Regions from separate parts of the Homo sapiens genome. Here all the other regions are linked to region 2. Evidence: fine-mapped expression QTL. A gene starts in region 2. Each other region holds a variant in brackets. All regions are shown on one strand. Distances are between the middles of the regions. Region 1 overlaps KNDC1 (kinase non-catalytic C-lobe domain containing 1). Region 2 holds the start of KNDC1 (kinase non-catalytic C-lobe domain containing 1). Region 3 overlaps LOC105378575 (a long non-coding RNA gene). Region 4 has its middle 5.8 kb from the start of MIR202HG. Region 5 holds the start of LOC105378574 (a long non-coding RNA gene). Region 6 has its middle 26 kb from the start of KNDC1. Region 7 overlaps KNDC1 (kinase non-catalytic C-lobe domain containing 1).

What was found.
Region 1: its variant is fine-mapped to the expression of KNDC1 in whole blood (TOPMed, PIP above 0.99).
Region 3: its variant is fine-mapped to the expression of KNDC1 in whole blood (INTERVAL, PIP above 0.99).
Region 4: its variant is fine-mapped to the expression of KNDC1 in whole blood (TOPMed, PIP 0.93).
Region 5: its variant is fine-mapped to the expression of KNDC1 in monocytes (TOPMed, PIP above 0.99).
Region 6: its variant is fine-mapped to the expression of KNDC1 in whole blood (TOPMed, PIP above 0.99). The same link has a PIP of 0.9 or more in blood mononuclear cells.
Region 7: its variant is fine-mapped to the expression of KNDC1 in whole blood (TOPMed, PIP above 0.99).

What each region holds. Positions count from the first base shown.
Region 1 is chr10:133,222,668-133,226,730 of GRCh38, reverse strand. KNDC1 (kinase non-catalytic C-lobe domain containing 1) reads right to left here. Exons shown (of 30, transcript NM_152643.8): 30 at 319-2,072. The coding sequence ends at 1,841. Among named protein-coding and RNA genes, the nearest start is that of UTF1, 5.5 kb to the left of the region's middle. RefSeq lists an enhancer at 1,013-1,636. The variant G/C (reference allele first, on the strand shown) is at 2,325.
Region 2 is chr10:133,158,067-133,162,129 of GRCh38, reverse strand. KNDC1 (kinase non-catalytic C-lobe domain containing 1) reads right to left here and starts at 1,911. Exons shown (of 30, transcript NM_152643.8): 1 at 1,561-1,911. The coding sequence starts at 1,662. RefSeq lists enhancers at 360-950, 951-1,540.
Region 3 is chr10:133,516,883-133,520,945 of GRCh38, reverse strand. It overlaps LOC105378575 (a long non-coding RNA gene), which reads left to right. Exons shown (of 5, transcript XR_946512.3): 2 at 1-1,275. Among named protein-coding and RNA genes, the nearest start is that of CYP2E1, 8.4 kb to the left of the region's middle. RefSeq lists a silencer at 544-743. The variant T/C (reference allele first, on the strand shown) is at 2,522.
Region 4 is chr10:133,251,614-133,255,676 of GRCh38, reverse strand. No RefSeq gene overlaps it. Among named protein-coding and RNA genes, the nearest start is that of MIR202HG, 5.8 kb to the right of the region's middle. The variant T/C (reference allele first, on the strand shown) is at 2,126.
Region 5 is chr10:133,194,325-133,198,387 of GRCh38, reverse strand. KNDC1 (kinase non-catalytic C-lobe domain containing 1) reads right to left here. Exons shown (of 30, transcript NM_152643.8): 10 at 2,567-2,725; 11 at 1,253-1,330; 12 at 620-713; 13 at 1-51. LOC105378574 (a long non-coding RNA gene) reads left to right here and starts at 2,052. Exons shown (of 2, transcript XR_946511.3): 1 at 2,052-3,247; 2 at 3,387-3,901. It overlaps LOC105378573 (a long non-coding RNA gene), which reads left to right. Exons shown (of 5, transcript XR_007062351.1): 5 at 1,114-1,192. The variant A/G (reference allele first, on the strand shown) is at 1,694.
Region 6 is chr10:133,132,026-133,136,088 of GRCh38, reverse strand. No RefSeq gene overlaps it. Among named protein-coding and RNA genes, the nearest start is that of KNDC1, 26 kb to the left of the region's middle. The variant G/A (reference allele first, on the strand shown) is at 2,377.
Region 7 is chr10:133,200,823-133,204,885 of GRCh38, reverse strand. It overlaps KNDC1 (kinase non-catalytic C-lobe domain containing 1), which reads right to left. Exons shown (of 30, transcript NM_152643.8): 17 at 2,988-3,385. It overlaps LOC105378573 (a long non-coding RNA gene), which reads left to right. Exons shown (of 5, transcript XR_007062351.1): 4 at 2,614-4,063. Among named protein-coding and RNA genes, the nearest start is that of UTF1, 27 kb to the left of the region's middle. RefSeq lists an enhancer at 3,791-4,063. The variant G/A (reference allele first, on the strand shown) is at 1,989.

The DNA.
Region 1 (4,063 bases), 65 kb before region 2:
TGCAGTCACAACCAGAAGCAAGTGTTTCCTGCCCCAGCCGGTGCGTTTGCTTGTTCCCACGGCCTGGGAGTGCTGGCGGTAGCTTTCCTCCTGGCGGGGCCTGAGTTGTGACACACGTCTGGCAGGCCCGGGCCTTTCTCTGCGGCATCAGAGGGCGTCGCTGTGGACCGGCAGATTCGTTTTCAGTCCTGGGTTGAGCACATCTCGCACCTGGAGTCCTTGTGAGCACCTGTAAGGGGCCTTCGTGCGGCCATGAAGGAAAACGTGTCGACCTGCAGAGGTCACCGTGGGGACCCGCAGAGTGACCACACAGCAGCAGCTGGTAGAAAGGACTTTATTCAGAAATTGGTGCCAGGACGGGAGGGAGCCATGCGGACAGTCGCGCTGAAGCCTGAGCCCAGTGCTGCCCCGGGGTCAGTCCTGACCGCTGGAATGTTGATTTGCACTGAGCACTGTCTGTTAGATACAAAATCTGAAAATGCGGGCGTGGGTCAGCAAAACATAATCCATATAAAAGCCTAAAAAAAAGTGAACTGCATTTCGTGGCCAGGACGCCGACTTCCTCTCATGTTACATCGAAGCGGGGCCCGGATGTCTCCGGTGAATTTATGTGGGAAAACACATCTTGACATTAAAAATGCAGCGATTTGTCACAGGTCACAGTTTTCCTAGAAATGCCACTAGCTGGCTGCTCTAAAGAATGACTAATTCTAAAACTCAAAAGCACAACCCTGGGTCTTGTGATTGGCACCGTGAGAGCCCCACGGAGCTGGGGCCGTGCCCGGGGCTCTGGTCACCCAGCTGCAGAGGCCAATGTGGAGCTGACTGCGCGGGACTCCCATGGCCCTGGCCAAGGGGCTCCACACCAGCTGCCTGGGGTCCAAGAACCTGAGCAAGGGCAAGGGGCCGTGGAGGCAGCGCACTTCCTGTCTCTGGCGAAGCGTGAGTGTGTGGCGAGCTGTGGAGGCAGGGCTGCGGGCGCACATGCATGGCTGCTGGAGGCGGTGGGCAGTGGCGGTCCCTGGGGCATGAGATGGGTGGGGGCACTCTCAGGGACCCCCGCCACAGAGCCTCTGTCTTGGAGCTGCTCTGAGTGTCCTTTCCAGGAAGCAGGGCCTTTGCCCGGGCATGACCACCTCACCAAGGGCTGTTCTAAGCTGGGGGGCCCTGGGCCCTGGGGGAGCAGGCCCAGCCCAAGGTGCCTGCTCCAGCAGCAGGCCTTGGGCACCTGGGGGTCTGGGCTGGGGAGGAGGGGCACTGGGCAGGGAAGGGGAGAGCGGTTCTGGGTCTGGGTTGTGGGGGGTGAACCCAGGCAGGGTCTCGGACCGGAGGTCTCGGAGTCCCTGGGAGCTGCAGTTGGCCACTCAGAGGTCAGCTTTGGCCCTTCGTTGCTCAGCCAACCCAGGCTGGCTCAGAAACCTGCTCAGGGAGGAGCTACTCTGAAGTTTGTTGAGTTGGCGGTGGAGGCTGTTGCTGTTTTGTGGGGGAGTCACTGAGAGCTGGGTAAGAGCCACTTATCTGTGTGTGAGAGGCGCAGACAGGCACAAAACTCCTGGGAAGCTGTCTTTCATTTTCATTTTTAAATTTAACTTTTTAATTCTAGCAGAAACACGCAAACCTCCAAGACTCTTGTGCCCGTCCTGGCTCCGTCTGCTGGGAGGAGACCAGCTCTGCCTGTCCCCATGGGGTCCCCTGAGCCTCCACCTCCTGGTCCAGCTCCCCAGGGTTCGGGGGCGGAGGGGCCTTGATAACGGCCGGGCCTGAGACGCGGCTCCCACCTCCCAGCCCGCCCCCCACAGTCGGATTCGGATCTGGAATTCCACACCAGGCCCGAGCTCGGCTACTGGAATGTAGCCTTCATCCTCCGTAGCTTGTCCTGAATCTTCCGTGAGTGCTTCTCGCTGGAGACCTGGTGGAAGTTGGCCCTGCTATCTGCGGCGAGTGTGGAAATGTCGGCACCGCTGAAGCGGGCAATCCTCTGCTTGAGGTACGACTGGAGCTTGGGGTCGGGGCTGAAGGTGTAAGGGTTCTCCTGGAACGCGTGCACCTGGCTCACCACCTTTGCGATGTTCCTTCCGTTGAGGAAAGAAGAGACGTTAGTTTGCACAGGGCAGGGGCGCGGCTTCCGTGGGGAGGGAGTCCCCCCGCGTTCTTAGGAATCATTTGGACTAAATCTTTTCACCGTGTAAATTCTGAAGGGTGGGTTGTCTGTATTTATTGGCGAGGTGGAAAGGTCACTACTCAGACCTTTCCGTCTGTCTGACTGTCCATCCATCCACATTTCAGTCCACACACGCTTATGGAAACCCTGCAGGCTCAGGCTC[G/C]TCCCTGCTGAGCGTCCCAAGAAGAGTCAAGCCCAGTCTGCCGCAGGGGCTGCAGCTGAGAGGACGAGGCAGGCAAGGGACTCTCTGCTGCCGTGCAGAGCGTTCACATTCACACCTGGGAATCGCCACGGCCGGGGCCCAGGGCCGGAAGCCTGGGACAGCTGGTTGACAGTGACCAGCACACCATAGAATATAATGGAGAAAGCTGGCCAGTCACGAGCAGGAGCCCTCAGCCAGGCCTGGGGACACTGATGCCACAGACAGACGCCCTGTCCTGATTTTGGATGGAAACACCACATGCCCAGTGTGAGGGACAAAGAAAGGGGCGTCCATTACGGCAAAGAAAGGCCAAGCCTGGATGGGCTCTCACACACACACACGCCGGGAAGAGCATGCCTGGATGGGCTCTCTCACACACACACACACACGCCGGGAAGAGCATGCCTGGATGGGCTCACACACACACACACACGCCGGGAAGAGCATGCCTGGATGGGCTCACACACACGCCGGGAAGAGCATGCCTGGATGGGCTCACACACACACATGCCGGGAAGAGCATGCCTGGATGGGCTCTCACACACACACACACGCCGGGAAGAGCATGCCTGGATGGGCTCTCACACACACACACACGCCGGGAAGAGCATGCCTGGATGGGCTCTCACACACACACACACACGCCGGGAAGAGCATGCCTGGATGGGCTCTCACACACACACATGCCGGGAAGAGCATGCCTGGATGGGCTCTCACACACACACAGACACACGCCGGGAAGAGCATGCCTGGATGGGCTCTCACACACACACACACGCCGGGAAGAGCATGCCTGGATGGGCTCTCACACACACGCACACACACGCCGGGAAGAGCATGCCTGGATGGGCTCTCACACACATGCACACACACGCCGGGAAGAGCATGCCTGGATGGGCTCTCACACACACACATGCCGGGAAGAGCATGCCTGGATGGGCTCTCACACACACACATGCCGGGAAGAGCATGCCTGGATGGGCTCTCACAGACACACACACGCCGAGAAGAGCATGCCTGGATGGGCTCTCACACACACACACACACGCCGGGAACAGCATGCCTGGATGGGCTCTCACACACACACACACACACATGCCGAGAAGAGCATGCCTGGATGGGCTCTCACACACACACACACCGGGAAGAGCATGCCTGGATGGGCTCTCACACACACACACGCCGGGAAGAGCATGCCTGGATGGGCTCTCACACACACACACGCCGGGAAGAGCATGCCTGGATGGGCTCTCACACACACACACGCCGGGAAGAGCATGCCTGGATGGGCTCTCACACACACACACGCCGGGAAGAGCATGCCTGGATGGGCTCTCACACACACACACACGCCGGGAAGAGCATGCCTGGATGGGCTCTCACACACACACACACTGGGAAGAGCATGCCTGGATGGGCTCTCACACACACACACGCCGGGAAGAGCATGCCTGGATGGGCTCTCACACACACACACACTGGGAAGAGCATGGCTGGATGGGCTCTCACACACACACACACACGCCGGGAAGAGCATGCCTGGATGGGCTCTCACACACACACACACTGGGAAGAGCATGCCTGGATGGGCTCTCACGCACACGCACACACGCCGGGAAGAGCATGCCTGGATGGGCTCTCATGCACACACACGCCGGGAAGAGCATGCCTGGATGGGCTCTCACACACACACACACACG
Region 2 (4,063 bases):
CCCACTGCACGCTGCAAACTCGGTGGGATGACAGTTCACCTGGAGGCCTTGGTGGACGTCACAGGATGGAGCCACCCACCCCAGTACTGTGCCGGCCGGGAGCTGTCCGGCCGGCCCGAGGACACTGGTGTGTGCGTGGGGGTGGGGAGCGGGAGTGGGGAGTGTGCAGAAAGACAGCCTGTGGCTCCAAGTGGGCTCGCGCCTGGCGCGGCGTGTTGTGTGCGTGGCACCGGCTGCTGCCTCCGTGTGCGGAGCGGGGAGGCCCTCAAGGCTCAGGCCTCTGATGCACGAAGGAGCTGTGGGAAGAGCTGCGTCCTCAGGGCCGCCTCCTAACAGATACCCTGGGATGTGTCCTGGGGCGTTTCTGAAGGCTGCGGGCTGCCCCTCCCTCTCGGTCAGAGCCGAGGTGATCTTGGAAGCTTTATTGCCTCCCCTGGCTGCTCCTCTCTGCAGCCTTCAACTGCACCGAATCCAGGCCATGGTGGGGGCGGGGGCATCGCCAACCCCCGCACAGCCTCAGCTGTTTCTAGGTGGCTGGGCCGAGGGCCTCCTGGGGCTGAACCTTCCCAGAAGGACGGTGCTTCCACAGCAGAAACTCCCGGTCCCTTCAGAGCCCACTCCCCTGGGGCAGCAGGTGGGGACTGCGAGGGGGTCAGGCCCGCGGCTGCTGCAGCCGGGATTCCCTGCTCCAGGCTTACTTGGCCGGCTTTAAAGAGAGGGCGCCACAACATCCCACTAATGGCTGCAGGTGACGACGCTGTCACCCGGAGACGCAGGCGCCCAGCGTCTGGGCTCTTGCCTGTTGGAGGTTTGGCAGATCTCGGATCCCTGGAGGGTGAGGGTCCCTCTGGGAGCTGCTGTATCCCCTGGGGGCCACCTCTCATGCTTCCGGGCCTGGCTTGTCCACTCCATCCCAGCCAAGCCAGAGCTGAGCTACAGGGTCAGACCCAGCCAAGGTGGCGTCTGGGCAGCCGGTGCTGTAGGGTGGGCGGTCCATGAGCAGAAGCGCCAGGGTATGCAGATGGCAGGCAGAGCCCCTCTGCACCTTGCGGGGTAGGGGGGTCTTGGGTGAAGGCCCGGAAAACCAGAGAGCAGGAAGCAGCTCTCAGTCTCGGGGGGCAGTCATCCAGCGCTCCCCCCACCCCCCGCTCCTGAACCTCAGCTCCGGGGACCTCATCCCCCAGCTCCTGAGCGGCGCCTGATTGGACTCTGCTGCTCTGCACCCCGCTGGCCTCCTGGGGCCCGGCAGGGAGTAAGCAGACCCCCCTCCGTCCTCCTTGCTGCCCCCACACTGTCCCGCCAGGGTTTCCACCAGGAGCTACCGCGCACCAACTTCTGCAGGGGCTGCCCACCCGCCGCCGTCCCGTGCGCATTCGGGGGTGCTGTCCCCTCCGGGTGAAAATCCTAACGCGGGGGCTGAGAACGGCGGTGGGAACCCCTCGGCCATGGAGGGCGCCTGGGGAGGCGGGAGCTCACAGCCCCTCCCGGGTCCTCCCCCCGGGCGCTCTCCGCGGACCCCTCGGCGGCGGAAGGGGCCCCCCAGTGGGGCCGGGGGCTCACCTCGTCCTCGGGGAGGGTGGGCAGCGGCTCGAAGTCGTAGAAGTCCAGGTCTTTGCCGTCCTCCTCGTAAAGATCCGCCGCGGCCGGGTCCATGGCCTGCATCCTGCGGCCGCGCCGCGCACCGCCCCCGGGGCCTCCGGCTGGGCTGGGCTGGGCTCGGCTACGCGCGCCCTGGCTCCATGGAGACGCGCCCGGCCCTCGCCCGCCCCCGCCCGCCCGCCGCTGCCGCAGTGTCTCCAGGGGACGCGGTCAGGGATACGGGGCGGGCCCGGGGGGCGCGGGGGGCGCGGGGTGCGCGGGGGCTGCGCGGCGCTGTCCGGACCCGGCGCCTAGGGAACGTCGCTCCTTCCTGGGGGAGGCACCGGGGGCGGAGCCAGGCGTGTGGCCTCCGCGGGGAGCCACGGGGTCTGCGCCCCACCTGGGCCCCAAGGGTCGAGGGGCGGAGCCGGCGCCCAGGAAAGCTCGGACGGGCAGACCCCCTCGCCGGCTCCCGCCGCCCCCGTCCCACCCCCGCTGCTGCCGGGCGGGGCTGCCGCAGTCCCGGGGTGGCCTCTGCAGCGGCGTTGGGCAGGGCCGGGCGGGGCCCGGGGTGGGGGGCGGGGCCCGGGGTGGGGGGCGGGGCGGTCGCTGGGCCGGGGTCTCTCCTGAGCGAGGGTCTTTCGGAGGCCCGGGGATGTTGGGGGTGGGGCAATAACGCTGCCTCATCCCCACCTGGAGGCATCGGAGAGACCCACTGGGCACCCGACCCTCCCCGGTCCTGGGGGACCCTGGGGGGTCCTGGGGCTCTTGACCTCTTCCTGCCCCAAAGGCCCCCCGGGGCTTTCTTCAGCGCCAGGGTGACCCCGGCCCACGGTAGTGCCGCGGTCAGAAGAGCCAGGATAGCCCCAAGCTCGGCCAAGAGGCAGGGAGGGTGGAGGAGAATCTCACCTTCCCCGGCCACCCCCAGAACTCCCACAGGAGAGAGGGCGGCTTCAGGGCCCGGCTGTCAGCTCCCCGTCCGTGTGGCTGGCCAGGCACACAGTAGGTACTTAATCCATGCTCCTGGCTTGAAGGAGCAGCAGGGCTTTTGACCGCAGAGTGGGAGGGTGCAGTGTGTTCAGGGACGTGAATTCCCAGCACTCTGTCCCCTGGTCGGTCACCCGGGCTGTCACTCTGGCCTGGCAGGGAGTTCAGGGGCTCAGCTCCCCGGGAGCCAGGTGGGCACTGAAGCCGGAGGCTGGGAGTGGGGCAGGTGCTGGGCAGACTCCCTGCGTCCAGCCAGGCAGCCCCACCTTATTGAAAATGCCCACCCTGGGGCCCACCCTGGTCCACCGAGTCAGCAGTCAGGTGCAGCCTCCCCCATCCTTGGGTGTTTGGAAGCTTGGGCAGCAAGCCAAGGTGGAGTGGGCTGGAGCTGGAGAGGAGGAGTCTCACAGAGGGTGGCCTCAGCCAGCTGTCCCTGAGCTCTCTCTCTGTGGGCCCCACAGGGCCTGCAGCGCCCCAGTCCCTGTCTTGGAAGGAGGCGGAAGTGGCAGGCAGACTCTGCTCCAGGAGCCTGATCCCGCTGCACCCTGGTGCTCAGACCTGGACATTGGAGCTGAGCCCCTGGGCTCCTGGGCCCTCTGCTGCAGGGCTGGGGCCGCCTCCTTTGTCAGGTCTGGATGTGCCCCTGACGCCTCTCAGCTGCCACCCAGACTTGTGCCTCCGGGGGAACGCCGGGCTGACGTGACCCCAAAGGGAAGGCACCAGGGACCCCACAAGCACAGGACTTTGTCACCGAGTGCCCAGGTCACCTCACGGGCTTGGGGTGAGGATATAGACACTGAATAGGGGGCAAAGGTAACCCCATAATTTGGGGGGCAGCCATAGGGCAAGCACTCCTGGAAAGACGTGCATGCGGTTGGTAAAATGCAGAACTCACAGGCTCCTGGAGTCGGCCGTGTCAGCTTCGGCTGTTGCGGCCTAAAACCCCTCAGCAGGCATTTCCCACACCTGGGTCACTCAGCGCTGCTGCTGCTCAGGGCTGGGCACGTGGGGAGGGGCCTCGGGCAGGGGCCGCAGGCTCTTTCTTTTACGCACCTGCTGCTTTCCTTTAAAGATTTGTGGGCTTTGGTCTCTGTTGTTCTGGGGAGTGGTGGGAACTTCCAGACGTTTTGCGAGTTGTCCCGGGCGCCCGCACACTCGCCTGCAGTGATAAAGCTTTGACCCAAGTGGAGGGTGCGATGTCGGTCCTGTGTCCTGGCACCTCAGTTATGCTGGACGAGGGCGCAGTTCCTCCAGGGTCTGGATTCATCGCCCCACGTCTTCTAGAGCTGGTGAGCAGCTTCTGGGTGCCACGCGGAAACGGCCAAGAGCCCTCCGTGAGCCACAAGGAACGGCCTCCTCATCAAGCCCTCCTGCCTCTCGGTGCCAGCCCTGTGTGCCCAGCATGTGCTGGCACAGCTTCCTCCCGAGGATGCTTGTGGTGGTGTCGGAATTCTGAGGGGCTTCCCAGCTGCACGATCAGGTCCGTGGTCCAGGGCCA
Region 3 (4,063 bases), 360 kb before region 2:
CAAACTTGCCTCTCCTCCCTTCACACTCACAAGTAGAAAGCATAAAACATCTCAGAAGTGCTCTAGGAGGATAATCAGTAGCCATAAACCCTTGGACCACAGAGCTACGAGGCAGAAGAATATTACTCTTCTGGGCACCCAAAAGGCTCTGGATAAGAAGGGAGGAGAGTACGGATGGGGCTGAAAACATGCTCAGAATGGCTGATTTGAGGGCTTTCCCCTGGAAACTTCCTCTTGTTTTGTATTGTCAAAAGGTTGAGAACCTTAAAACAGACATTTGTGTGGGCAACTATCTGATGTTCGATGCCATACTTCACTGGAAATAACGACCTTGACAAAAGCCAAACATCTGTTCCAAGTAAAACAAAAGCAGAGAACACACAACCTCGCCGCGTCCAAAGGGCAAGCCACGCTGGTGCAGGAACGAAGCCTCCCGCCTCAGAGGGCGCGGGGCTCTGTGCTGTGTCCTGTCTCCTGTCAGCCGGCTCTGCCCGCACGCTGAGCTGCGGTTATGGCTCCGGGAGCAAACAACCCGGAAGTGGCAGCGCGGCTGGGCGGAGGGCGCCCTCCTGGTTCCGCTGGGGCTGCGGCTCCCTGAGGCCCCGAGGGGACCCCGCTCACCCGGGCCCCGCCCACCAGAGGGCGCCAGAGAGAAGCCACCGGGGAGGCGCCTGCGCTGTTTCCCTGAGCCTCCTGGTACCCCGTTTGAGACACAGGAAAAAACGCGTGAAAGGCTTCTGTAAATTATCAAGTGTGGTGACGTATGAACCCCAGGCAGCCCACTCCCAACCCCAAACAACATCTCATTCAAGCTGCGTCTACCAGAAGCTCGCACATCCAACTGCCTCCCTCCAGAGGTAGCCGCTGTCCCGAATTTTGCTTTGAATGTTCCCTGTGATTTTCTTTTTTATACTGTGTAATTGGATTTTTAAAGGGATTTCATAACATTTATATTCCCGGAGGCTTGAATTTTTTTGCTCATCGTTTTTCGTTACCACGTAGTGAGGTGTTGCTGCAGTTCCTCGACTTTGTGACTCCACAGATACGAATATGTGGCACTTTGTTTAACCACTGTCCTGTCCGATTATTCCCAAGGTTTTGCTACTGCAGACTAGGAACATTTTTGAACATGATTCCTGGAGCACTGTGTAAGAATATCTCTAGGCCAAGTGTATACCTGGGCAACCTAATATACATGGAACCAGATTGTTTTCCAAGTATTTGAACCATTTACCTGCGTCCAGTGGTGTCTAAGTGTTCCTGTTATTCCCAACAGTATGTACTAATAAATTTCTTAATATTTTCCGATTTAGTCAATATAAAATGATATTTAACTGTGGTCCCATTTTGCATTTCCCTGATTATAAAGTAGAGAAACTTTCTCTCCCTATCTCTGTCTTGTCAAAATTATACATACTTTTCTCTGAAATGCCTACTCAAGTATTTTATGTATTTTGCTCTCCTCTTCCCTTGGGGTTTTGGTCTCTCATTGTTTGCAGGAATGCTTTATTCTGATCCGTCCTCAGTTCTATGTGTTGCAATAATTTTTTCCATTCTTTAGGTTACTTTTCTATACTATTTATGGCATTCTTTTTATCAACAGATGTTCTCAAGTTATCAGTCTTGCATTTTTGGATTAGCACTTTCTGAGCTTAAAAAAATCCCTTCTTCCAGCCTGGGTGTTGGAGTGAGACCATGTCTCAAAAAGAAAAATCCTTTCCTAGCCAGAAAGATGATAAAGATAACTGCTTATTTATAAGGTTTTACTGTTCCCATTTATGCCCTAAATCTATGTAGAATTTATTTTTGTACATAGTAAGGACTAAGGAAGTTTGTTTTCCCATATAGATATGAATTGTCCCAGGATCCTGTCTCTGATCCCCAAATCATCTTCCAAAACAAGACAAAGTTCTTACACAGGGAATGCATCAGAGGCCTGTCTCTCCCTGGTCCAATGCCATAGCATTTTAATTATTATAGCTTTATAGTAGTATTGATATCAAATAGTGCAAGTCCTGTGGTGATTCACTCAGGATGGTGGCAGAAATATTAAAGGGACATATTAGGGAAAGTTATAGGGAATAGTCACAAACCTTTTTGGAAGGCTGAAAGGTTACATAGCTTGTAATAATTGAACAGGCTGAAGGCAGCGGGTTCTTACCTTAGAGCATTAGGTCATAGGGTAAATACTAGGGACAATAGAGGCTTCCCCAGTTAAGTCTGTTTACCCTACCTCCATTAACTAACCTTTGAGCCAGATGGCCCTCTTGGTGCGGAGGAGGTTGACCAGGGAAATTGCCCCCTAATGGTATTTAAACCGTGGTACCTGAGCTTTAATCATTCATAGAACTACCGTCTTAACCATGTTAATTATCCACAAGTGTGTTGACTCAGAGCTTCTGTTGTTAAGCGTATACTAAATAAATGCCTGAAGTGCAAGCTGCTCAGAGCCAGCCACAGTGACAAACCTCTCTTGGTGTGTAGGCTGTCGGACACCGAGCTGGACTGGCAAAGCAGAATA[T/C]CTCTGTGTCAGTGTACGTTGTATTCATCCATCGTTTGGGTCAGGGTCTGCAGGCACACCCCTGCAGCTAATGCCCTCTTGTGAGGAGCAATACCTCGAGTCCCACCACCGTTTTTTATTTCAAGAGTGCCTTGCATACAAATTTTAAGACTCAGTTAGTTAAATTTCCTCAAAAAGTCTTTTGAGATTTTGATTAGAATCACATAAACTCTGTGAATTAAATATCTTTAAAATACTGATTTTTCCTATCCATGATGTGGAATCTGTTTCCATTTATTTAGGCCATTTTAAAATGTTTTCAATAAATTTTATAATTTTCCGCATGTAAATTGTACACATTTTTGTTAACCTTACTCTTAGTTAACGTTGAGTTTTCTAAGCAGAGTTCTTGATAAATTATGTTTTCCAACTATTTATTGCTAGTGTATAGCAATACAAATGATTTTTGCTTATTGATCCTAGAGGCAGCCCCCTTCCTAAACTCTCTTATTTCCAATAATTTCTGTGCAGATTCTTTTGTGGTTTCTCAGTAGACCATCCTGTCGTCTGTGACCAATGAGAGTTTTGCTTTATATCTTTCAATCCTTATTCCTGTAATTTCTTTTTCTTGTCTTATTGCACAAACAGATCCTCAGTACACTGTTGCCTTGATTTTTATTTTAATGGGAAACATCTCAGAAGTTCTCTAAGAGGACGCTCAGTAGCCATTGCCCCTTTATGAATGATGTTTATTGTAAGGTTTTGATAGGTATACTTTTTGAGTTTAAGGAAATTACCTTTTATTTCTAGTCTACTAAGAATTTTTAAGTTAATAATAGATGTTGAATTGTATTAAATGCTTCTTTTGAAATGTTCAGATGATTTTCCCCTTTAATTTGTGAAAGTGGTGAATAAATGTATGGAATAAACACAGTTTGGTCCTGACAGTTTGTCTTTTTAATGTATTGACGGATTTGCACCCAGAGGAAGGGCTGGCTGGCAGCTGCATTTGGTTTACTCACAGGTTGTTTTGGATTTTTGCATCTATGTTCAGTATGAGGCTGGCCCATAGTTTTCTCTTCTGTCTTTCTCTGTGTTGAATATCAAAATTATCCAGGCTCCAAAGAATGATTTGATGACCATTCATTCATATTTGATCCTTTTGAAGAGTTTATGTAAGATTGAAATGATCTAACAGCTTTAGAAGAACTCACTTTTGAAACCATATGGTATTTTTACTTGTGAAAACATTTAGAATTAATAATTCAATGTATTTAAGAGTAGCATAACTGGTCAGGCTCTACACTTCTTGAATTGATTACGAAAACTACATTTTTTCTAGGAATTGTGATTTCTTGTAAGCTGTCAAATTTATTCACATAAATTTGTTTTAGTATTGTCTTATGTTTACAGTCATGGTTGTATTTATCATTATGTTCCTTTGACATCCCAAACATTGTTTATTTGTGCTTTTTTGTGCTTAAGTAGTCTCAGAAGCAGTTTCTCTACTTTATTAATCTTTTTCAAATAGCAAGCCTTGGTTGTGTTCCTCTCTATTTCCTC
Region 4 (4,063 bases), 94 kb before region 2:
TGGCCCCCACCCCATCTGTCCCTGGAGGTCTTTGTCTCCTTCTGTGCTGAACTCCACCCTCCAACAGCTCCCCGTGGCTGCCCAAGCAGGGGTGGCGGGGTGTCAAGGAGGGTGGGCGGCGGGACCGCGGGGCAGAGGGGCTGTGCATCCTGGGTAATCCCACCCTCGCCCTGGGTGGCCACCAAGCGGTGCCGGCAGCTGGACCTGGGTGCGGAGTGTGGAGCCGAGTTCACCTGCCTTTTTGTGGCTCCCAGAGGAACACGCAGAGACCCAACTGAGGCCAGCCTAACTGGGGCTGCTGAGGGTCAGCCCCGGCATCGGCTCGGGGCACCAAGGACCCAAGGAGACTGAGCAGGGACTGCAGCCGCTCAGCGGGGGTTGGAGGTGGCAGAGCCCTCCTCAGCCTGGGGGAGCTCAGCCCTGTCCTCAGTGAGAAAGACCCCCAGCCCCTGGCAGCGGACGGCAGTGACCACACAAGGGCTTGAGACCTGGGACTGGGACCTGGGCCGAGTGTGGGGTCCAGACCCAGGTGGTGGAGAAAGGGGTAGGCTCTGCAAGTGTGTGTGTGTGCATGTAGTGTGCTTTGTATGAGTGTGGGGTGTGTGTGTGTAGTACTAAACACATCATGTGACGTGTATATGTGTGTGGTGTGTGTCTACATGTGGTGTGGTGTGTGGGGTATGTATATATGTGGTGTGTACATGTGTGGTGTGTACAGGTGGGATGTGTATATATATGTGGTGTGCACATGTGTGGTGTGTGGGGTGTGTATTTGTGGTGTGTATGTGTGTGGTGTGTAGGTGTGTGGTGTGTGGGGTGTGTATATATATGTGTAGTGTGTACATGTGTGGTGTGTGTGTTGGGTGGCACGTGTGCACATGAGACACGGGGTCCAGCCCGGTGGCCCCAGCTCCTGGCCAGGCAATCCCAGGGGACAAAGGCTCCTGGACAAAATGGCTTTGGCCCCTTCCGCCCGCCGTGGCCTTGGAGGGCAGAGGAAAGTTCTCATGGCCCAGCGAGTGCTCCTGATATGTGGGTGTGCACAGGAGAAGAGAAAGAAAATATCAAGAAGCCGTGATTATCTCCTCTGAGGGAGTCACAGACACGCAGCCTTGAAACGCCAGCCCTGAGCTTAGGGCAGGGCTCTCCCAGGGCCGGGGATTAACTCTTTGCTTCCCTCTCCCTCCGGGGCTGGGGGCTGCCTATGGTGGCTCAGCTGAGCCCCTGGCCCACCAGCCCCTTGAGACCATCCCAGACCCTGCCAGGAGCCAGGCGGTGATCAGCCTCTGGGCACAGGCCCAGCCCTCCATCTCCCCTACAGCCGGCCTGGAGCACAGATTCCAGGGCCTGGCTCCCAAGGGGACATCCCATGGGGTCCCAGAGCCTCAGGAGCCTCAGGGCCCGGTCACTCAGCTGCACTGCCCTCCACACATGATCTGGGGCAGCCCCAGCACGCCTCAGGTCCTCAGTCTGACCTGGATCCCGGGAGCCCCCTGAAGACAGACGAACCGACCTGGGTCCTGGTCACTGCTCCAAGCTCATGCCCTCTCCATAAACTCGGTGTGGGGCCACCAGACGTAGCAAGTAAAAATTCAGGACACACAATTAATTCAAATTTCAGTGAAACAATGAAAACTTACAGTGTGAATGCATCCTAAATATTTCATGGGACATATTTATCCTAAGAAATGGTCCGTGTTCTTCCGAGACGCACATCTGACCCTGGGCCCCGTGTTATTCTGACCAGGGCATCCCAGGGTCAGCCGACCACCGCAGAGCGGGCACCCCCACGGCTCCGCCGCACAGCCCCAAGTTTTATTTCTATTTTATTTATTTTTTGCGGAATAAACAGTCTCAAGTGCACAAGCCCAGGGCTCTGGCAAATGCGTCCAGTGCGTAACTACCTCATCCTCAGGCCACGGAACATTCTACCGGGGGGGCCCTGTCACCCCACGTGGTTTGGCCTGCTCTGGGGAGGCCCGAGACCCTGTGTGTCTGCTTCTTTCTTGTACAGTCATCATGATTTTTTATCCATTTCTGTGTGGATGAAGGAGACTTGGGGACTTGGAGTGGTTCCTGTTTGAAGACCTTCTCCTTCTCCTTCTCCTTCTCTTCTTCTTCTTTT[T/C]TTTTTTATATGGAGTTTCACTCTTGTTACCCAGACTGGAGTGCAATGGCGCAATCCCGGCTCACCGCAACCTCTGTCTCCCGGTTTCAAGCGATTCTCCTGCCCCAGCCTCCCGAGTAGCTGGGATTACAGGTGCCCACTACCACGCCTGGCTAATTTTGTATTTTTAGTAGAGACGGGGTTTCTCCATGTTGGTCAGGCTGTCAGGCTGGTCTCGAACTCCCGACCTCAGGTGATCTGCCTGCCTCAGACTCCCAAAGTGCTGGGATTACAGGCGTGAGCCACCATGCCCAGCCTTCTTTTTTTTTTTTTGAGACAGGGCCTCGCTCTGTCACCCAGGCTGGAGTGCCTTGGACCATCACAGCTCACTGCAGCCTCGAACTCCTGGGTCAGATGATCCTCCCGCCTCAGAGTCTCGCATAGTTGGGACCACAGGTGCATCCACCACACACAACTAGTTTATTTTTTAATTTTTTGTAGAGACAAGGTCTCACCATGTTTCCCAGGCTGGTCTCAAACTCCTGGGCTCAATCAATCCTCCTGCCTCAGGCTCCCAAAGTGTTGGGATTACAGGCGTGAGCCACCCACCGCACCCGTCCCAGAATGTTCTTATTGAAGTCTTTCTGGGGACGGATGATTTCATTCCTCTTTGTAAATGCTTAGGAGTGGAATTGCCAGGTCACACGGTGGACACAGGTTTCATTTGTAAGACTCTGTCCATCTCCGAGGGAACTCTATTTCCAGCACCTCCTTTGACAGGTGGGGAAACTGAGTCCAGGAGCGGTCAGCTTTGCTCTAGGCCTCGGCTGCTTCTCTGGGGTAGCCATTGACATCGCCCGGCCTGCAACTCAGGGGTCGGTGGGACCAGCACATAACCTGAGGGAAGTGCTGACTCCCGGGACACTGGACCTATGGGGTGGGGGCTGCAGGGCAGGGTCAGGAGCAGAGTGGGACAGGGTGCAGGGCAGGACAGGGTGCAGAGAGGGATGGGGTACAGGGCAGGACGGGGTGCAGGGCAGGACGGGGTGCAGGGAGAGCTGGGGTGCAGGGAGGGATAGGGTGCAGGGCGGGCCGGGGTGCAGGGTGGGCTGGGGTGCAGGGTGGGGCGGGGTGCAGGGCGGGCTGGGGTGCAGGGAGGGATGGGGTGCAGGGCGGGCCGGGGTGCAGAGCGGGGCACGGTGGGGTGCAGGGTGGGATAGGGCAAGATGAGGTGTGGGGCAGGACGGGCTGCTGGGCAGGGTTGGGCCCAGCCTCAGGGTGTGGCCAGTGTAGACTGAGGTCTCCACATGCGATGCAGGAGGAGCAGGCCACCCTCTTTGGGAACTTCAGCAGGGAGAGTCCACCAAGGGTTAACAGTGGGCTGCCTTTGGCCAGAGACAGCTGCAGGGACACCCCCGCCACCCGCCTCCACCGGGCCCCACAAGGAATGGAATGGAGGGAGTGGAGCCGCCTGAAGGCCACCCGTTATCACCGCCAGCTCCGTGCCAAGCACGTCTGCCAGACCCACAGAGATCCTTTCTGTTTCTGGTGGAGGGAGGGAGGGTGGCCGGTGTGTTTGGTGTGGAGGGGCTGCTATTGGGGTCTGAGGCACCCAGGGAGTGTCTGGACCCACAGCAGGGCCCCTGCCCAGGTGGTCATCCTGACCCCTGCTGATGGGGGAAGGACCAGGACACAGTCCCCGGCTGGTGCTGGCTGGACTGCTGAGGCCTTCTCGGGGTTGGCGGTGCAGCAGGAGGCCCCGGGATGGTGGGAAGGATGCCCGGGTGGGGCTCCTCTGCTTTCAGGCCCTTCCACCCCTACTCTGCAAATCTCCGGCAGGAGGTCCCCAGGATGGGTGGGAGCCAGGCTGTGCGGCCTCCAGTGGGTGAGGTGGGTCCCTGTCCTCCTGCTCACAGGCTGGGTTTCATTCAAAGCACTGGGGAGCCACAGGGAGCTCGG
Region 5 (4,063 bases), 36 kb before region 2:
CGGGCCCTGGCACAGCCACAAGCCCGGTGTCGCTGTTCACCGGCAGGAAGCCTGGGGAGCCAGGGGGCTGAGGGTGTGGGCGGGCGGAGTGGCCCCAGCACGTGCCGCACCACCGGCTCATCCCACCCAGTGCTCATCCCACCCAGTGCGTGGTGCCGCGTCCCCTCCCGCATGGCCCTGGGGGCTTCCTCTGTGCTGGGCCCTGGAATGGGAGGGTGGGTGAGACTGGTGCTTGGGGGAGGGCCAGCAGGCGGGGACGGGCCAGCAAGACCAGGCCCCACCAGAAGCCTTGGAGGGGCCTGCTGAGCAGGGCTCAGTACGGGGGTGGGGTGGGCTCTGTGTGGACTCTGGGGGTCTCCAGATGTGGGCTTGGGAGGGCCAGCTGCTGGGAGATGGGAGTGAGAACCTGGAGCTGGGGCCTGAGCGACTGGGAGTTTTGGGAGATGGGGGCTGGCAGGGGCAGGCAGGCTGGGCTGCATGGGCCACGTTGGCCGAGCTCTGGACTTGCTTCCCGGGTTTCCGAGAGGTGCCCGGCTGTGTCTGTCCATGCAGAGGTGGGGGCAGCTGTGGTGTCAGGTGCAGGAGCTGGTGGGGCAGCAGGGGCTGGTCAGGTCCCCACCTGGGCTGGGCTCTGGGGCTGGTGCCACACTGGGCTTCAGTTCAACCACTGAGAAGGCGTTTTGGAGGCTGATGGTCTCTTCCTCCTGGTACACCTGGGGAGGAGGTGACAGCCCTGGGCCAGGTGACCACGGAGCTCCGCCAGCGCCGGCAACACCCACAGGGCGTCCCCCACCACCCGCCGGTGCCGTGGAGCTTCCTGCTGGGGAGGAGCCGGGCATGGCGGCCACACGGCCCAAGCTCTGCAGCGGCTCTGCCTGGAGAGGGAGCCGTTGGGGCTCCTTTGCCTCCCAAGCCAACCAGGTTTCCGTGGGTTCCAGGGAGTGGGAGACGCCAGCACCACCCGAGACTCAGGGCCCACACTCCCAAAGCTCTCTGCGCCCGGGGTGGGTGCTGGGCCGCCGTCCTTGGGACCCTGCCCTGATCCTGATCTGGGTCCCTGGGGGCCACTGTGGGGCCTTTAGATGGGACTCGAGTGTCCCCCTGCACCCCCAGATGCACCCACCCACAGCTCGGTGGTCAACAGAGACCGGGGTGTGGGGCTGCCGGGAGCGGCCAGGCAAGGGCAAGTGCGTCCAGGAGGGAGGAAGCTAAGCGCGGCGGAGGAGGCGGCGGCCTGGCTGTTCTAGCCCACCTGGCAGATGGAAGCTCTGAGGTGGGCAAGGATTTTCCGGCTGTCCATGCCTCGCTGGAGGAGGTAGCTGCCGCACACCTGGAGGGAGGAGACAGTTCACACGTCCCGACAGGCCTCAGCCACGGCTGCACCGTCCCCGTGTCACTGGGTCCCCATCTGAAAAAGCTCAGGGCTGCCAGGAGGGTTTCCTGTTTGTTCTCACCGACACCCAACTACAGGCCCCGGACAAGCCTTTCTTAGAGCATTTCCTGAAAAGGGCTCACAGTCGGCCACTGTCCCCCAGGCTCCCTGGGAGGGCAGAATCCCAAACCCAGCGTTGGCCACAGACCTGGTAGCCTCGTCGCCTGGACACTGGCAGCCCTTGGTCACGTTCGCCTGAGCCCCACGCTCCCTGCCCCCGGCCACTCCTGTCCTCCCTTTATAAGCTCAGGCCTTGTGCAC[A/G]TGGGAACTGAGCTCAGCTTCCCCAGCTCTCAGTAGTTACTGAATAAAATCTGCTTTCACTGCTTGGCAGACGCCCAGCCGTGTCTAGATCTCATCCTCCTGCAGCAGAGGAGGCCTGAGAGGCCCACAGGGTCTGAGCAACCCGCCCAAGACCACAGAGCAGTCGAGGCGGAGACGGCTGGACCCAGGTCCCCAACCCCATGGCCGTCTCCGCTCCCCCAGACACGGCTCCTCCCCAGGAGGTCCTCCTGATCACCCACACCCAGCTCGGCTCCTCCCCAGGAGGTCCTCCTGATCACTGACACATGAGAGTTTGGCTCCTGCCCCACCTGCTGGTCCACCCGCTGGTCCCCATGCCGGGTGCGGGTGCAGGTCCCAGCAGGAGTACGTTAGAACCCAGCCCCAAAGCTTGAGTCCAGCAGGGAGACCAGGCAGGGAGGGGCGGGGCTGGTGGGATCCTCAGAGGAGGTGGGGGTTCGGGGTGGGGGGTGAGGTGTGGAGGCCTCTCTCTGCTCCCCTCCAGCAGGGCCTAAGAGCAGGGGTCTGCACGTGCCCACAGGACACCCCTTGCCCCCGCCCTGGCCTCTTGGACAAGCTGGAGAGAGCGGGCTCCGCAGGAGGAACGGCCATGGTGGGGAGCAGCAGAGACCCCCATGCTGTCCACCCACATGGACGTGGCCATGACGCGAAACCCACTCCCTTCCCCATGCGACGGCCAGGCCGACGTCTAGAAACAGGGACCTAGAAACAGACCTGGTGGCCTCATCACCTGGACACTGGCAGCCCGTGCTCCTCCACCCCCAGCTCAGCGAGGGCGGCCACTGCCCACAGTCCTTGGACCCTGGGCTGGGGCCATGACTGTGGTGTGGTTACCTTGATGGCCTCAGCCGCGGACGGCCGCTCCGGGGCACTGCGCCTGGCCATGTCCAGGAGGAGGGTCTTGAGCCTGCGTGGCAGGGCCAGCTTGTGGTTGCGGGGGACGCTGAACTTGGCTGCGGTCCACAGAACGGCGGCCACACAGTACACAGAGGCCTGGGCGGGTGGGGAGAGAATAGTGTCTACCGCAGGGCTGTGGGCTGCTGTGCCCAGCAGACCTGCCCACCTCAGGCACCCTGAGGGGCACCCAGGCACTGCCCCCACAGAGGGGCTCTCCTCAAGACCCCTCCTCAGCATCTATCAGGCCCCACCCTGGACCCCTGCATCCGCCTCCAGGTCGTGGTCCAGGAACCTGCAGGTCGAACTCTCCCCCATGGTTCTGTCCGCGTTTTAAACACCAGAGGGTTGGAAGCCTCAACTGGACTTTCCCACCTTCCACTCTCCTCACGAAGGCAGCAGCTCGAGGGTTTGAGGAGAACTGGCCAGCATAGCCCCCACCTCACGGACCCGGGAGCCCCCCGACTGGTGCCTGCTCCCGGAAGCCCCCCGACTGGTGCCGTGCTGCTACATGGCTAACAACTGGCTCTCCGAGCGAACACACCGCCTGTGTGCAAACTGAGTTCATCCGGCACGTTGCTGATGTAAGGGATGCACAGCACACCATTTGATGCACGTTTTGTAAGTTCCACAGAGCCAGTCAATTCTCACTGAAGGCTTTCATTGATAAAAATCAATGAAACCCATGTTCATCCACAGTCCACCACAATACACGAGTGCTGCTGACATGAGTGTTGGTTGATGTTTTCATTCATTTCAGTAAATGAGATGGAAGTGAAGCCGGACAGACCCATGCTGGAATTCGGGGCACCCCTCTGAGCGACGTCTTTGCTGAATCAGATGGTCGCGGTTGATATCGTAAGACCATGTCCTCCACCTTTTGGGCTATTCTCAAGGGAGCGGCCACAGACATGACACACTTTTAAGTTTAATCACATCATCCACGTGTTCTCCATCACTTCAGTAAGTCCAGAGAGTCAACAGAACAAGACATTTGTAGCGTTTGCTGCTTTCCCTGGTGTAAGTACTCCCACGTGGCTGACTTCTGGCTACCAATGCAGTGCCCTTGAGTGTGGAGCTGGGAAGAGGCAGCTCCCCTTTACAGAGTCTCCCCCATCCAGGCACAGCAGACGCAGACAGCCCCACGAGCATAGAACAGCCAACTAGAGTCAGATAAGTAGGAAATCACCCATTTTGAGCACTTGTTACACTTTTAAAAAATTAACCTTTTATTTTGTGATAATTGTACATAGTTTTAATAAATAATAGAGCTCATGTACTTTGTACCCAGTTTCCACAACAGTAGCAGCTTGCAAAATACTGATACTGATATAGTCCAGTATCTCAGCCAGCACATCGCCATTGGCACAAAAATCCTGGTTCGCCATATGTTGCATTTTCATTTTCACTCAGTTCTATATGTTTTTAAAATTTCCT
Region 6 (4,063 bases), 26 kb after region 2:
CCACAGGGACCCAGAGACCAGAACCCCCCCACAGGGACCCAGAGACCAGCTGCCCCCACAGGTACCCAGAGACCAGACCCCCCCACAGGGACCCAGAGACCCCCCCCACCACAGGGACCCAGAGACCAGACCCCCCCACAGGGACCCAGAGACCAGAAACCCCCACAGGGACCCAGAGACCAGCTGCCCCCACAGGGACCCAGAGACCAGAACCCCCCCACAGGGACCCAGAGACCAGACCCACCACAGGGACCCAGAGACCAGCCGCCCCCACAGGGACCCAGAGACCAGACCCCCCAACAGGGACCCAGAGACCCCCCCCACCACAGGGACCCAGAGACCAGCCGCCCCCACAGGGACCCAGAGACCAGACCCCCCAACAGGGACCCAGAGACCCCCCCCCCACCACAGGGACCCAGAGACCAGAACCCCCCCACAGGGACCCAGAGACCAGACCCGCCTACAGGGACCCAGCGACCAGAACCCCTACAGGGACCCAGAGACCAGACCCCCCAACAGGGACCCAGAGACCCCCCCCACCACAGGGACCCAGAGACCAGACACCCCCACAGGGACCCAGAGACCAGCCGCCCCCACAGGGACCCAGAGACCCCCCCCCACCACAGGGACCCAGAGACCAGACCCCCCCCACAGGGACCCAGAGACCAGACCCCCCCAACAGGGACCTGGAGACCAGCTCCCCTATGGTACCAGCCCAGGCTGTCTCACACCCAGGGACCCAGTGGCCCCGAATGAAGTCTGCCGTGTTTTAACAAGCATCATTGAACCATGTTTCCTTTAACACTGCTCACCTGCAGGCCATCGGCCCCACCCCACCGAGGCACTGAAGCCACAGGTGCTGCAGTGGATTCTTTACCCTGGCAGCTCAGCCCACGCCAGCGTCCCGCACTCCCTTGGAGGCAGAGACCCCGGAACTCATTTTAAACAGTGTTTACCAGGAGACACAGACCACAGATACACAGCCCACGTGACACAGGACCTAGTACTCAATTGAGACGACTCAGACCACGAGAACTCAGCCTCCCAAACACACAGAAGAACACACGGGCGCAGCTCCAGCCCACCACATGCAAACGCACCACCACCGCCGCCACCTGGGCACACGGAGGGTGAAATTTCAGCCCATACCAGTGGCACCAAGAAAGTAGCCCAGAAAATGTGTCCTCATCCTACAGCAGCACAGACTGCTACTGTCACCTCGAGTATTTTACCCAGCAACACAGCTCACTATGAATCCAATACGAGCATTAACCCTAACAGGGAGGCACTACGTGCCAGAGTTCCTCACTCCACGAAGACGTGGGCCACGAGTACTCTCCGAACCAGGGCAGAGACATGGGTACTAACCCAGGCTATCCCTCACCAGGGTACTCACTCCACTAGGACCTAGACCAAGGGTACTTTCTGGACCATGACAGAGACATGAGTACTAAACCAGCCAATCCCACACCAGGGGTATTCACCCCTCTAGGACCTGGACTTGGAGTAATCTCTGAGCCAGGGCGCAGACATGGGTACTCACCTGCTTTGTCCCTGGCCGATGTCAGCCCTGCACCACTCTGTGGCTTGTTCAGTGACCCTGTCTGGGAGAGGCTGGGGGGCGGCTGGCAGGGAGGGACTTGAGCTCTGGGTGCCTCTGCTGCCGGTTCTGACCTGCAGGCCTCCCTGAAGGGCTATGTTGGGTGTGGTTGGAGTTGTGAGTAGGGAGCAAGGTGTCTGTTGCGATTACAGGGGAAGTTGTTGATATTTATGTAGAAAAGAAGTAATTAGAGTGAGTTTAAGAGTGTCCTCTTAACAGTGGTTTTCCCAGTACCCACGTCCTGGGATGGGAGTGGGAAGGAAAGGCAGGCCCTGGCAACCCCAGTCATTTCCTGGGACACAGGACAGAGGTGTGAGGTCCAAGTCGGCGCCCACTTGGGCCTGAGCGGTGCTGCTTGTCCTCTGGAAGTCGGCCGCCTGCAGATCTGTGGCCGGGGGGATGCAGCCTGGGGTCTGGGGTCCTGAGTCCTTGCAGGACCGTCTGTGGGCAGCCACGTCTGTGCTCAGGCACTGGCCCTGCAGCCCCCAGGAGGCCTGGACAGCCAGTGTTGGGAGTTGCCCTGGTGGGCCCCAGCTCACCCAGCAGCCCTCCCTCCAGGCCCAGAGGAGCCAGCACGGCGGGCATGAAGGGCTTGTCTTGCTGCTGAGCCCACTTGCAGCCTGACCTGTCTCACTGGGAGACACTGATCTTCTAGCTGTGGCCCGAGGGACAGGCCTCTCACGTGTGCCAGGCCCTCCTATGCCCCTCCTGCTCCGCCTGCCCTGAACAACCACAGCACTCAGATGCCTGCTCAGACTTGGCCCCAGGGACCCTCC[G/A]AATTGGCTTCTCTGTCCCTGTGCCCAGTAGCCTCCCCAGATGCCCACCAGGCCCCGCCTCCACCCCACCGTTGACCTGGCCTCACAGCACTTTGTCTGTCCTCACGGGGTGCTCACCCTTTCCCTCCCCCTACCCCGTCCCCTGCCTCCCTGGGCACACGCTGCCCCTGCAGACACAGGGCCGGCCTCCATCTGCCCAAGGTACCCCCACCCCACCCACCTCAAAGGCTACAGAACAGTCCTTGGTCTTGAATACAACAGGCAGAATTTCTGGCCGAAGGTGCCTGTGCAGTAAAGGCTCTGCAGAAGCCTCTAGGCTCAGGTACAAACCCTGGCAGTGCAGTGGAAGGGAAGCGTGATGAAGTGAGACACAGAGGAGCAGGATCCACGTGAGACACGGAGGAGCAGGGTCCACGTGAGACACGGAGGAGCAGGGTCCACGTGAGACACGGAGGAGCAGGGTCCACGTGAGACGTGGAGGAGCAGGGTCCACAGTCCCCGCACAGTGAACACACCCACTGTTCCAGCTCAGGCCAATGCTGGTCCCGACAGCGTCCCCCGAGAAATGCAAGCACCAAGGGTCAGGGAGCAAGTGGCAGGACCGGTCAGGCACCATCTGGGCACTGGGTAGGTGTGGAAGTGCCCGTTGCAGCCAGTCTCTGCACATGGGGGGCATTCACCACATCAGTGCAGGGCCCTGAGCTCCTTCCAGGGTCCCTAGACAGGCTTCCTGCAGCTGCTGTCACTGATGGGCGACACTGCAGCCTAGCGTGTGGCTGCTGAGCTGCCTTCTGCCAAGGCCCTCCCAGGGGCCCAGTGCTCCCATTCAGCCTGCATCCCTCCTCAGTCCTGCTCAGGCAGGTGGAACGTGCGGGCCCCAACCCAGCCCCTTCCCCGCAGAACCAGTGGGGGCTCCTCAGCTGCCCAAAGCCCCTGCAGGGGTGGCTCATTCAGAGACAGAGCAGGCCGACCAGATCTGAGCCCTGTCTGGGGCCTTCGTGGGCGACGCGGCAGATGCCACTGTGTGTCTCCCAGGACTGGAGGCCTCCTCAGCTAGGACTGCTCCAGAGAAGAACTGTCAGGGTCTGGAGGCACAGGCAGCTTCTGCTTCCTAGTCCTTTAAGCTGACTAAAGTCACCACAGTGTTGCCGTGTGGTAGTTACACACCCGCACGGAGACAGGGCGGAGGGGCCGCCTCACAGTGTTCCTCCAAAGAGCATGCACACACATGCACACTTACCCTCAAGCACACGTGCATGTGTGCACACAACTCCCACAGAGGGACCTACACACCACACAGGCGCACACTCTCACACACTAACACGTCAACACCCACACAACCCACAAGCCACTCACAAACACACAGGCACACAGGCAAGCACACTCACACAGGCCAGCATACACGCACACTCCATCGCATCCGACACGCAGGCACACGGACTCACACACACACAGGCACACAGGCACACTCGCACAGGCCAGCATGCACGCACACTCCATTGCATCCGACACACAGGCACACGGGCAAGCACGCTCACACAGGCCGGCATGCACGCACGCTCCATTGCATCCGACACGCAGGCACACGGGCACACTCGCACAGGCCGGCATACACCCACGCTCCAGTGCGTCTGACACGCAGGCACACGGGCAAGCACACTCACACAGGCCGGCATGCACCCACGCT
Region 7 (4,063 bases), 43 kb before region 2:
AGGCGCGGCAGCCCTCGGCCCGCAGCCTCCTGTGAGGGGTTCACGTGCCCAGGGCCCGAAGCGACCGCCCCGAGGGGCTCATCCGCGAGCCGGTCCACCAGGCTTCCTTTTGTGAAGTGCGGTTGGCTCAGATCCACACAGCCACCCCCTCGCCTTGTCAGCCGCCAGTGACTCTGCTATTGACAGGGTTTATTTTTGAATGTTTTTTGCAAAATAAAAAAATGCAGGCGACATTTCTATTTAACTACTTGAATCCGCTCTATCTGGTGGTTCCATGGAGACGGGGTCCCTGTGCTGTCTTCTCCCACGCACGGGTTCAGCAGCGGCCGTGGCGGTGCCACGGAGGGCCAGGCTCCCCGCTACGGCAGTGTGGGCAGTGTCCCAGCTGCGTAAAGACCAGGCCTCTGCAGAACCTCGGCCACTAAGCCAGGTTCCCCAAGCCCTCCGGACCCCGCTGCCACCCAGCCAAGTGCGACCCTGCCTCCCACACTGAGCTGCAGGCTGCCGTGGCTGCCTAAAGTGCAGTGAAATTAAAACATCAGGTCCTCAGTCACGTGGGCCATGTTTCCAGAGCTCAGTAGCCACACGTGGCTGTTGGCTACCCGGTGGACAGCGTCTAGAACATTCCATCATCAAGGAAGGACCTACCGGGCTGGGCAGGTTGAGGTTGGTAAACGCAGGTGTCCCCATGGAGCTGTGTTCTGCTGCCGGGGCACCTGGTCCTGGCTTCTGAGGATGGTGGTGGCCACGTTCCCCCATGGCCTGCACCATGGGGCCCTCGTCCGGCCCCCGGAGGTCACCGGCGCCAGGCTCCATCCAGCCCTCTCACCCCCATCCATTTGCAGAGGTGCTGATGTCGAGAAAATCTCCTGGGAAAGGTCTGTGTACCCTGACGCATCCAGGAACCTGGAGGCGGGTGCCTGCGAGCCCGATGCCCGCCTGGCTGGAGTGCAGCTCACGCAGACTCCTCTCTGGCCGGCACCTCCACGGCCTCCGTTCACAGTCAGACTCGATGTCCGTCGGGGGCGCTCCTCACGCGGGAACCACAGGCGGACTCCATGAGGAGGACGGTCTTGACTGATTTTAATAAATCCACGGTAACTAAAATCCACACCACATGTGGGGCAGTGAGGAGGGAAACACGAGGCCAGGCTTCACCGGTGCAGACAGACGGGGGAGGAACCCACACCAGTGCTGTCCACGCTGACTCTGGGAGCCACGCTTGTTTTAACAGCAGGAGACGCGGATGCCAGCTCCACAGCCCCAGGGCACCCGCAGTGCTGAGCCCAGCACACACGGCCGGCACCAGTAGGTGGGGGTCAGCGCTGAAGGGAGGAAATGCCCACCGGCTGCTCCAGCCGCCCCAGAGAACGGCCCTCGCTGCACCGTGTGCGTTTTGGGCTGCGGATGTGAAAGTCTGTCTCCAGGTGGTTTTTGCCCTTGCTGTGTTTCTGAGCCTCCTGTTTTGAAAGAGACACAGTAGCTCCTCCAAGAGAAACGTGAGGCTGTGGCCATGGGCCGGACGCTGTGTGTTTGGGGGCCGAGTGCTCCCTGCTGGACACCATGAGTTTGGGGGCCGAGTGCTCCCCGCTGGACGCCGTGAGTTTGGGGGCCGAGTGCTCCCCGCTGGACTCTGTGCGTTTGGGGGCCGAGTGCTCCCCACTGGACGCCGTGCGTTTGGGGGCCGAGTGCTCCCCGCTGGACTCTGTGCGTTTGGGGGCCGAGTGCTCCCCGCTGGACGCCGTGCGTTTGGGGGCCGAGTGCTCCCCGCTGGACGCCGTGCGTTTGGGGGTGGAGTGCTCCCCGCTGGACTCTGCCAGTTTGGGGGCCGAGTGCTCCCCGCTGGACGCCATGCGTTTGGGGGCGGAGTGCTCCCGGCTGGACGCCGTGAGTTTGGGGGCTGAGTGCTCCCTGCTGGACTCCCTGCGTTTGGGGGCCGGGTCGTTTGGTGTTTGCTGTGCCGGCCGCCCTTTTCTCTCCCCAGCCCC[G/A]GGGGCGGCCTTTGCGTCCTCGAAGCCCCCTCAGGCCCTGTGTGGGGTGTCCGAGATGCAGGTGCAGAGGCTGTAGCACCATGCGGGTCTTTCACGTGGCCCAGAAGCTGAAATGAAGTGAAGGCTTCACAGAGCTTAACCCCTGTCCCCTCACCTGCCCTGAAGGGACACCGGGTCATGTTCTGGACTGAGTCATAAAGTGCAGGCCAGGAGGCGGCAGGAGAGGAGCAAGGAGGAGCCCCAGGAAGGGCTCCGATGCCCAGAGGCTGGGGGAGGCTTCCCACGGTGGCTCAGCTCGAGGCAGACGGTGGTAGGAGAGGTTCCCGGAGCTGATGGCCACTGGGCCCCTCCTGTCATCCACCCTGGAGTCCCGGGGCTCTCGAGAATGCAGCCCAGGTCGGGGCTGTGGGTCACTGGTCCCACCTTGCGTCCAGAGCTCTGCAGGCCTCTCCTGCACCCAGGACTCCCCGGTCTAAGACCTCCTCTCCCTGCTGGCCAGGGAGGAGTTGCAGCTGCTCCTGACCCAGGATGGCACTGCTGGCCAGAAAGCCCGGACCAGGCTGCAGCGACCAGGCCCAGTCTAGACTTGCTGGGCAGGCGTTTTTGGTGTTTTCTTTCACTGCAGAGCGAGGCTGCCCAAGGGCCCGGAGGCTGTGCCTGCCCCACGGAAAACACGACCGAACGCAACCTGGTCACGAGCATGGAGGGGCCTCCTGTGAACCCATCGCCCGGGCGACCATGAGAGAAAAGCCCTTCCCTGTCCTCAGACGTGGAGCCACCAGGAGCACCAGTGCAGACGAGCCTGTCCCTAGACGTGGAGCTCAGCCCAGGGAGGGGGCCCTGACCATCTTGACAGCCACGGGGTGGGGGCACCAGGACCAGTGTCACCCTGTTGGGGGCTCTGGGCACACGGTGCCATCTGTCACCTGCAGTGACCAGGAAGCTCTGCTGGAAGGAGACGCCCTGCCCCACCCGGCAGTGCCAAGGCCTGGGACTCACCGGGCTCTGGGCGTCGGGCAGGGCCCCGTCCGCCTGCTGCCGCCCCAGGTCCTTCACGTAGTTGTGGACGTCGGCCCCGAAGCAGTCGGCCTCGTAGAAGGCGCTGCACCAGCCGGGGCTGCAGCTCTGGAATCCGGCTGGGCCGGGGGACAAGGCTGGGCCGACCCCTTTGGACCTGGCCAGTCGGGTCACTGCCTCCACGTCTGAGGCCCCGCCAGCTGGCCGTCTGTCCTCGCCAGCCTCAGGCTGCTGCGCTCTCTCGGCTTTTACGGACCTCTGAGGCCGAAACCCCACCTCGAAGTTTCCCCGTGACAGTGCGTCCGAGTCCACATCCGACACCGAGGTGGGTGAGCAGGGGGCCCTGCTGCTGGTCCTGGCCATGGCTGGCTTCTCTTTTCCTTGAAAGAAAGAGACGCAGGTTACGTGGACAGTGGCTCCTGTGGGCGGAGCCCGGGCAGGCTGTTAATGGGAGGCCGGTGGTGCTTGCACACCCGACGCCCTTCTCTCTTGCACCCGCCCACCACGGGCGCCCCCCGGGCACGGCTGCCGCCTCCCAGTGCAGGGGAGATGCTGGGACCCTGAACTGCCGCACGGGGCCGGGTGACAGAGAGAGGCCTCTCCCCAGATGGAGCCCCACTCTGCGCCCTCACTGCTTCCAAACTCGTACTCGCCCCGGGGTGGGGCCGGGCCCTGTCCTCGCTGGCTCTGCTATCAGGACTGTGTCCCTCTGCCCCCTCACGCTCTCCTCTTTTCTTCTGGAATTTAAAAAGTGGTCCCCAGCTCTGTCCCTGCGGGAGCTTCCCCTGTGCAGGGCTTTCCTGCCATCCAGGAGTGCACGGGCCTCATGCCCCAGCCTGCCCGCCTGGTCTCCGACTTGATAGGAACTGGGCCCGTCACCAAGCCTGGCCACGACTACGGACAGCCTGAGGGTGACCACCACCCCCACCTTGTCCCTAACACCAAGCCTGCTGGCTGGACGCTGGGACGTCCCCAGCCTGGCACTCATGTGCCCTGGGATCCTGGGGCTAACAAGCCCACTTCTGCCTTGTCACCAAAGCCCCGGCTCACAGGCCCCC